2 linked regions of the Homo sapiens genome follow. The protein of the gene in region 1 interacts with the protein of each later gene in a biochemical or structural test. Each region holds a gene or a part of one and is shown in the gene's direction. Other genes may lie near its edges.

Evidence for each region.
Region 2: the proteins of BASP1 (region 1) and GAD1 form a complex in vitro, tested with the Homo sapiens proteins (one study listed by BioGRID).

Annotation. Positions count from the first base shown.
Region 1 is NC_000005.10:17,269,574-17,273,322, forward strand, and holds part of BASP1 (brain acid soluble protein 1), read left to right. Parts: intron 1-3,749.
Region 2 is NC_000002.12:170,815,354-170,819,102, forward strand, and holds the start of GAD1 (glutamate decarboxylase 1), read left to right. Parts: upstream 1-1,533; 5' UTR 1,534-1,695; exon of another isoform or gene 1,696-1,852; intron 1,853-1,900; exon of another isoform or gene 1,901-2,063; intron 2,064-2,364; exon of another isoform or gene 2,365-2,687; intron 2,688-3,032; exon of another isoform or gene 3,033-3,175; 5' UTR 3,176-3,238; coding exon 3,239-3,320; intron 3,321-3,749.

The DNA of each region.
Region 1 (3,749 bases):
TTCTTCCAGAATAGCTGTTTCTAGCCAGGTGGGATTAATTGGATGGAGGCTTGGTTTTATAAGGTGGAAGGGAATAAAACTAGTCACAAGATAGTTGTGGGGGATTTTAAAGATGTAAGTTAGTATCTCTATTAAGCTATTTGACATATGATAAACAAACAGTATTCTTCTGCAGGAAGTAGCAAAACAAAATGACATTTGACAATGTTAGCTTCTCTCATTAACATGGTGTGTTTAGCTTATTAGCCAAGATAAGCTGTAGACCAGGTTTTTACCCTTTACACGTGAAATTTGAGGCATTAAATGAGTAAAAGAATTGGGATTCCTTTTCCATCTTGGTGATCAAAACACTTTTCTCTTGTTTCCTTGGACCAAGTGATGAAGAGGTGGTGAGGGGACAGCAAAAAATGCAATTACATTTCTTCTCTTTATTTTTATTTTTTGAGACAAGAGTTTTGCTCTTGTTGCCCAGGGTGGAGTGCAATTGTGCGATCTCGGCTCACCGCAACCTCCACTTCCCAGGTTCAAGCGATTCTCCTGCCTCAGCCTCCTGAGTAGCTGGGATTACAGGCATGCACCACCACATCTGGCTAATTTTGTATTTTTAGTAGAGACGGGGTTTCTCCATGTTGGTCAGGCTGGTCTTCAACTCTTGACCTCAGATGATCTGCCCGCCTCGGCCTCCCAAAGTGCTAGGATTACAGGTGTGAGCCACCACACACAGCCCCCTCTTCTCTTTCTCTGATCACTCCAATACTCGTTCTAATTGGGAGGAATGGATTTAACTAATCTTTGGTTTTTATCTCTGTGTAGAAACTGATTTCTTGGCAGAATGGACTGTTAATATATTTAAAAAGACTGAAAACCTCTTAGAATCTTAAGTAGTAAAATATTCAGAGCGAAGAAGTAGAGATTTTACCTTTACAATATGGTGACAACAGATAACTGTAAAAACTTCTTTTTCAAATAGAACCAGCAGGAGCATGCATGGAACACATATACCAAACATCTTTCTGATAACATTAAACATTTTTAAAAGATGTTAAATGTTCTTTTCATTGTGGTGCTTCAGATTCCTGATTCTAGAACTTGTGTGTGTGGAACCTGTGTGCTAACTATTCTGTTGGAATTTACCAGCAAAGAATTATCTAAGAATTTTCAAACTAAATGATGGGGGAAGGAACTAACATTTTTGCAGTCCCTGGAAATGTAAAATGTTGTACTCACATGGCCTCACATTAAATTCCCATTAAATTGACATTTAAAAAAATTTTTTTATTTTAAAGGAAACGGAAGGACGATGAGATTAAATAACTTGCCCAAGGATTCTGGGTGGGTGTGCTGTGGAGGTGGGATTTTTATACTCTGCCATGACCCAATGTGCAAAGTCTCCTTGAAATTCAATTCTTGTCCAATATTTACCAGATTAAACTCAGTGAAATTCCTCTCTCTACTACTGTTTATGGTTATTTTCTATGCCAATATTAATCGGTAAGCCTGTCATTTTCGCCCTTGTGGCATCGAGTTTTCTTTGAAGGACAGCTTTTTTGTTTGCTTTTTGTTTTTTGTTTTGCTTTGTTTTGTTTTGAGGCAGGGTCTCACTCTGCCCAGGCCATAGTGCAGTGGCTGATCTCGGCTCACTGCAACCTCTGCCTCCCAGGCTCAAGCCTCCCCAGTAGCTGGGATGATAGGTGTGCACCACCACGCCTGGCTAATTTTTGTAATTTTTGTAGAGACGGGGTTTTGCCATGTTGGCCAGGTTGATCTTGAACTCCTGACCTCAAGTGATCCACCCACCTCGGCCTCCCAAAGTGCTGGGATTACAGGTGTGAGCCACCACACCCGGTCTTTAAAGGACAGCTCCAGAATTAGCTTTTTTCTGAGATGTCATAACAGAGGTCAGTTTTAGTGTTTGGTTAATACATAAACACATAGAACTGAGGTCAGTGCCTTCAGCATTGGTCTGAATTTTGTTGCTGTGCTACAAAATTCTAGTGAATTTCCTAGTTGTGGAGAAATGCAAAGTCAGTCTCGGCCTTTTCAGTAGAGCTTTGGTTTAGTGACTTTTTTAGTTGAAGTGACTTTTCAGCATGGATTGTCTATTGCTGTATTTTTTTAACTGCTTTATTTTAATCTTAGAAGTTCCAACTTCTAACTTTCTATACCAAATGATGTCTTTCAAAATTAGAAGTAACAGAAATGAATGAAATCGGCTGGGCATGGTGGCTCACGCCTGTAATCCCAGCATTTCGGGAGGCCGAAGTGGGCAGATCACCTGAGGTCAGGAGTTCAAGACCAGCCTGGCCAACATGGTGAAACCTCATCTGTGCTAAAAATACTAAAATTAGCTGGGCATGGTGGCAGGCTCCTGTAATCTCAGCTACTCGGGAGGCTGGGCAGGAGAATTGCTTGAACCTGGGAGGCGGAGGTTGCAGTGAGCCGAGATTGTGCTGCTGCTGCACTCCAGCCTAGGTGACAGACTGAGACTGCATTTCAAGAAAAAAAAAAAAAAAAAGAAAGAAAAGAAAAAGAATGAAATCATTAAACTGTATGCTCATTGCTTTCTCTTGGTAAAAAGCTTCTCTGGCAAATAGGAAGATGAAATGTTGAGAGGCAGAGGATACTCAAAATACTGAATTTCTTCCTTATTCCCTCAACACCTGAGTTCTGAACTACCCCAGGTGGCACCATCCTTGTAACCCAGGCGCATAACATTCCTGGGCTGAGAGCTTTGCCCCATTGCCGGCTTCTCAGTGGAGTTCCTTCTATCCCCTCTGTGGTGCCTTCCTGCCTTACTGAATTTTGCTGGACTTGGCCTTTGCTCATAGTACAGCTCCACGAACTCAGCTAGTAGGATTTCCTTATGGGTAAAAGGAGAATGTGAATGGCATACTACCCCATGGTGCTGTTGAGATTACATATTTTATGTAATATATTTATGAGTAGGATTGTGCTTGATACCTAGGAAACAGTTAATAGATGTTGTAGGCAAGGTCTTCACGCATATGGTCTTGGGAAATAATGAGACAATCCTGCTTTTCGAGGGTTCAGGTGGGTCCTATGAGCGTCCCTCTGATACCTCAATATAACCAGTAGAGGTAAATTAGCAAAATGCCAGGGGCGTTTGTTAACTTTGTTTGAAAAACAAACTGGATTGAGACATATTTTCTTACTTATAACTTGATTACGTGTGTTCATTTTCGACCCAGAAACAAATCGCAGCTGGGCATAAAACAAAGAATAGAATGTGGCCTTAACTATGTGTCAGAAAAGCCAGTTTTAGTAACTCAGATTTTAGGTTTGTAACCCAACATGACTTTAAACCTCTGGGGATTGCTGTATAGAATTTCATGCTGTGGGTGTCAGAAAGCAGCACCCCATGTTATACTTACTGGACCCCCTATGTTTGCACTTTATCTTAGTGTCTGTAATTTCTAAGTTGGTGTATGGGTTTCTATTACTGGATTGAGAGAAGATCCTAAAGGCAGACCTGTTAGGTTTCCTGTTTCTTATTTAGCTCAACCTAAGGGACCCAATGTATTTTGAAATATCAGAGCTGAAATTATATTTGGTATAGGCCATTCGTGCATACTGACTAGTTAAGAATTCAATGGAAGAGTTATAAACTATAATTTAAAATATTGATCCGGTTTATTTCTTTATATTTTCATGTACTGCTCTGTGATTGCTTATAGGATGAAAGTATATTTAATTGTATTTTTTGCCATGTATGTTTGTTTCTACTTTTG
Region 2 (3,749 bases), on another chromosome or scaffold:
AGGCGACAAAACAGTAGTTTCTTTAGTACCAAAGGCAACGCGATTATTTCAAACCCCACAGCGAGATCCCTCTTGCTGATCAGGCCATGTCTGCCCAGGGCGGACCCTTCGATCTCCCTTATGGAACTCTCGGTAATTTATAATATTTTTGTGTGTGTTTCCATTGTGTTGTGGTGAAAGGCGATAAGGCATTCAAAGAAAACGGACGGGCCTCCGCTGAACCAGTGAGGCCCCAGACGTGCGCATAAATAACCCCTGCGTGCTGCACCACCTGGGGAGAGGGGGAGGACCACGGTAAATACCAGTAAAGGAATCACTGCCTACACGGTGTCACCCAGACACGCACAGACATCAACATTTTTGCCCTAAAGAAAAAAACTGGGGGAGAAGAAAGGGGAGAACTTAAACTAGTGACAGGGCGGTGAGGGAAGGCATGAAGAGGCAAGCCGGCGCGTAACCGTCTGGCCAGCAGCTCCAGGTGTGGGCTCCGCTCGGGCGCTGGCGGAGAGACCCGGGAGCGCAGGGCCTCTCCGTCTCTGGGCTCTTGGCGCCCTCTGGTGGGAATTTCTCTTTCAACGCATTTTTACGGCGAGGGGCTTCTCCCAACGCAGCGGTTCTTTTAACTACGCCTAAATATTGCAAAGGGAGAATCCTTAAAGCGCGTGAAATCGAAGGGGGAGCGGGCCAGGGCAAGGGGGGCTGGTCCGCCCCTTCCGGGCACCTCTGTGCTCGGGTGCCCCATGCGCGTGCAGCGGCGCTCGTGCGTGTCATCAACCTTCAAACGTGATTAATCAGGAGGCCTTCTTTTCCCATCACCAAGGGGGCCAAAGCGAGGAGCGAGCGCATAGCAAAAGGGACGCGGGGTCCTTTTCTCTGCCGGTGGCACTGGGTAGCTGTGGCCAGGTGTGGTACTTTGATGGGGCCCAGGGCTGGATGAGGAAACTGTAATTCCTCCATGGTCTAAGAGGTCTCCCCTCATTTCTGCCTCCTTTGCGGTTACAACAATCCCAGCTCCGTAGAGAGCCAACGAGGACACGACCCAAAGCGCGCTTTCGCTCAAGGAAGCGTCGCAGGGTCACAGATCTGGGGGAACCCCGGGGAAAAGCACTGAGGCAAAACCGCCGCTCGTCTCCTACAATATATGGGAGGGGGAGGGGAAATGGGAGAGGGGAAAGGAGGGGAGGGAAGAAGAAACGCTCAGAAAGGCAGAATTCTTCGTAGGAATTATCTTTTCCCTCCTCTCACCCGACAGCCTGCCTATTTCCAAAGGAAAAAAAAAAAGCGTGTTGAGTACGTTCTGGATTACTCATAAGACCTTTTTTTTTTCCTTCCGGGCGCAAAACCGTGAGCTGGATTTATAATCGCCCTATAAAGCTCCAGAGGCGGTCAGGCACCTGCAGAGGAGCCCCGCCGCTCCGCCGACTAGCTGCCCCCGCGAGCAACGGCCTCGTGATTTCCCCGCCGATCCGGTCCCCGCCTCCCCACTCTGCCCCCGCCTACCCCGGAGCCGTGCAGCCGCCTCTCCGAATCTCTCTCTTCTCCTGGCGCTCGCGTGCGAGAGGGAACTAGCGAGAACGAGGAAGCAGCTGGAGGTGACGCCGGGCAGATTACGCCTGTCAGGGCCGAGCCGAGCGGATCGCTGGGCGCTGTGCAGAGGAAAGGCGGGAGTGCCCGGCTCGCTGTCGCAGAGCCGAGGTGGGTAAGCTAGCGACCACCTGGACTTCCCAGCGCCCAACCGTGGCTTTTCAGCCAGGTCCTCTCCTCCCGCGGCTTCTCAACCAACCCCATCCCAGCGCCGGCCACCCAACCTCCCGAAATGAGTGCTTCCTGCCCGCCCTAGTCCCTGCTCTCCACGGGTGCGCTGCGCAGGGACCCCCCCCCCCCCGCCTCCCTCGTCACTCTTCTTATCCCTGCCCTCCGGATTCACGCCCCGGGGAAGCACGGAGGCTGAGGCTCTAGTTGAAGTGGGGCAAGAGCGATTTTCCCTTGAGCTTCCATGCTGCGAGCGCCTGTCCCTCCAAAGGGCGCCTGGGCAGCAGCAGCCGAAGGCGCTACTAGGAACGGTAACCTGTTACTTTTCCAGGGGCCGTAGTCGACCCGCTGCCCGAGTTGCTGTGCGACTGCGCGCGCGGGGCTAGGAGTGAGGTCGGAGGGAGGGTGTGGAGGCGATGGCCGGTGGGCCCTTCTCTGTGGGGTCCTCGATCTACCCAGATTAGCCCGCAATCTCTCTGTCCCGGGGCCTTCGGGCGCCATCGCGCCAGCGCCGAGAGTCGAGCAGGGGCGCCGCGCAAGATCTTTGTCCGCCGCCTCCTGCGCGCTGCGCGCAAGTTCGTTTCCCCGGTGACGTTCCCCATGCTTACTTACCCCACCCTCTCTGGATCTGTACCGCGAGAAATCTGGGGTCCTCAGGGGGCTAGGTAGAGGAGAAACGCTGAAACCGGACCGAAACCTCGCCCTAGGCTTAGCGATGGCTAAAAACCGGCTGGGATAAGAGGGAGGCAAGCAACATTCCGACTCGCTGCTTTCTGGCTGTCTGGAGTGCAAGGTGACTGTGGTTCTTCTCTGGCCAAGTCCGAGGGAGAACGTAAAGATATGGGCCTTTTTCCCCCTCTCACCTTGTCTCACCAAAGTCCCTAGTCCCCGGAGCAGTTAGCCTCTTTCTTTCCAGGGAATTAGCCAGACACAACAACGGGAACCAGACACCGAACCAGACATGCCCGCCCCGTGCGCCCTCCCCCCGCTGGCCCACACGCCGGCTGCTGAGTGCCCAATGGGGCTTGTAGCGGCTCGGCTGGAAAATCGCTCACTGAGCGCTCCCCTGTGCTCCTAGCCTAGTCCCCCACACCCTTGCGTCTTGTACTGGCCTTGGACCCCCACCCCGACCCCGACCCCGCCTCGTCTCGGCGCTTCACTCCAGGTCGCGCCGATGCACCGCCAGACTCGAGAGCGGCCCAGGGCTACGCTCCCTGCGCCCCAGTACCGGAGCTAGCGCGCACGTCTCCTCCGCTGCCCCCACCCCTGCGCACCCCTACCAGGCAGGCTCGCTGCCTTTCCTCCCTCTTGTCTCTCCAGAGCCGGATCTTCAAGGGGAGCCTCCGTGCCCCCGGCTGCTCAGTCCCTCCGGTGTGCAGGACCCCGGAAGTCCTCCCCGCACAGCTCTCGCTTCTCTTTGCAGCCTGTTTCTGCGCCGGACCAGTCGAGGACTCTGGACAGTAGAGGCCCCGGGACGACCGAGCTGATGGCGTCTTCGACCCCATCTTCGTCCGCAACCTCCTCGAACGCGGGAGCGGACCCCAATACCACTAACCTGCGCCCCACAAGTAGGTCCCGCCCCAATTTTCTATCAAATGAACTGCAGGGAAGATGGGGGCGCTGGGACGTCGGGAGGCTGAGCTGGCGGAAAGGGAAGGGGGAGCGCGGAGATAATGGAGGCTGGGAAATAAATGGGGCTCTGACCCCGTCCCTGCCAGAGGTCATTCGGCTGTCAGGGACGCTAGGTGACTCCCAGGGCACCGGAAAGCGAGGACCACGCAAGGTCCGAGCAGCGGCGATCGTTGAGGGCTTCGCGGAGGAGGAGGGGCGCGCAGCCAGGGTGTTGTTTTTATTCTGTTGTGTGTGGTTTCTTTGCTCCGTGGGACGACAGGGGTCAGCGCAGGGGGCGGAATGAAGAGCTAGGAGCCCCAGCAGGAATAAGAGTTTTCAGTCCCCGGCTTTCGTTGAGCCAAGATCTGACCTCCTCCTTTCCCCCT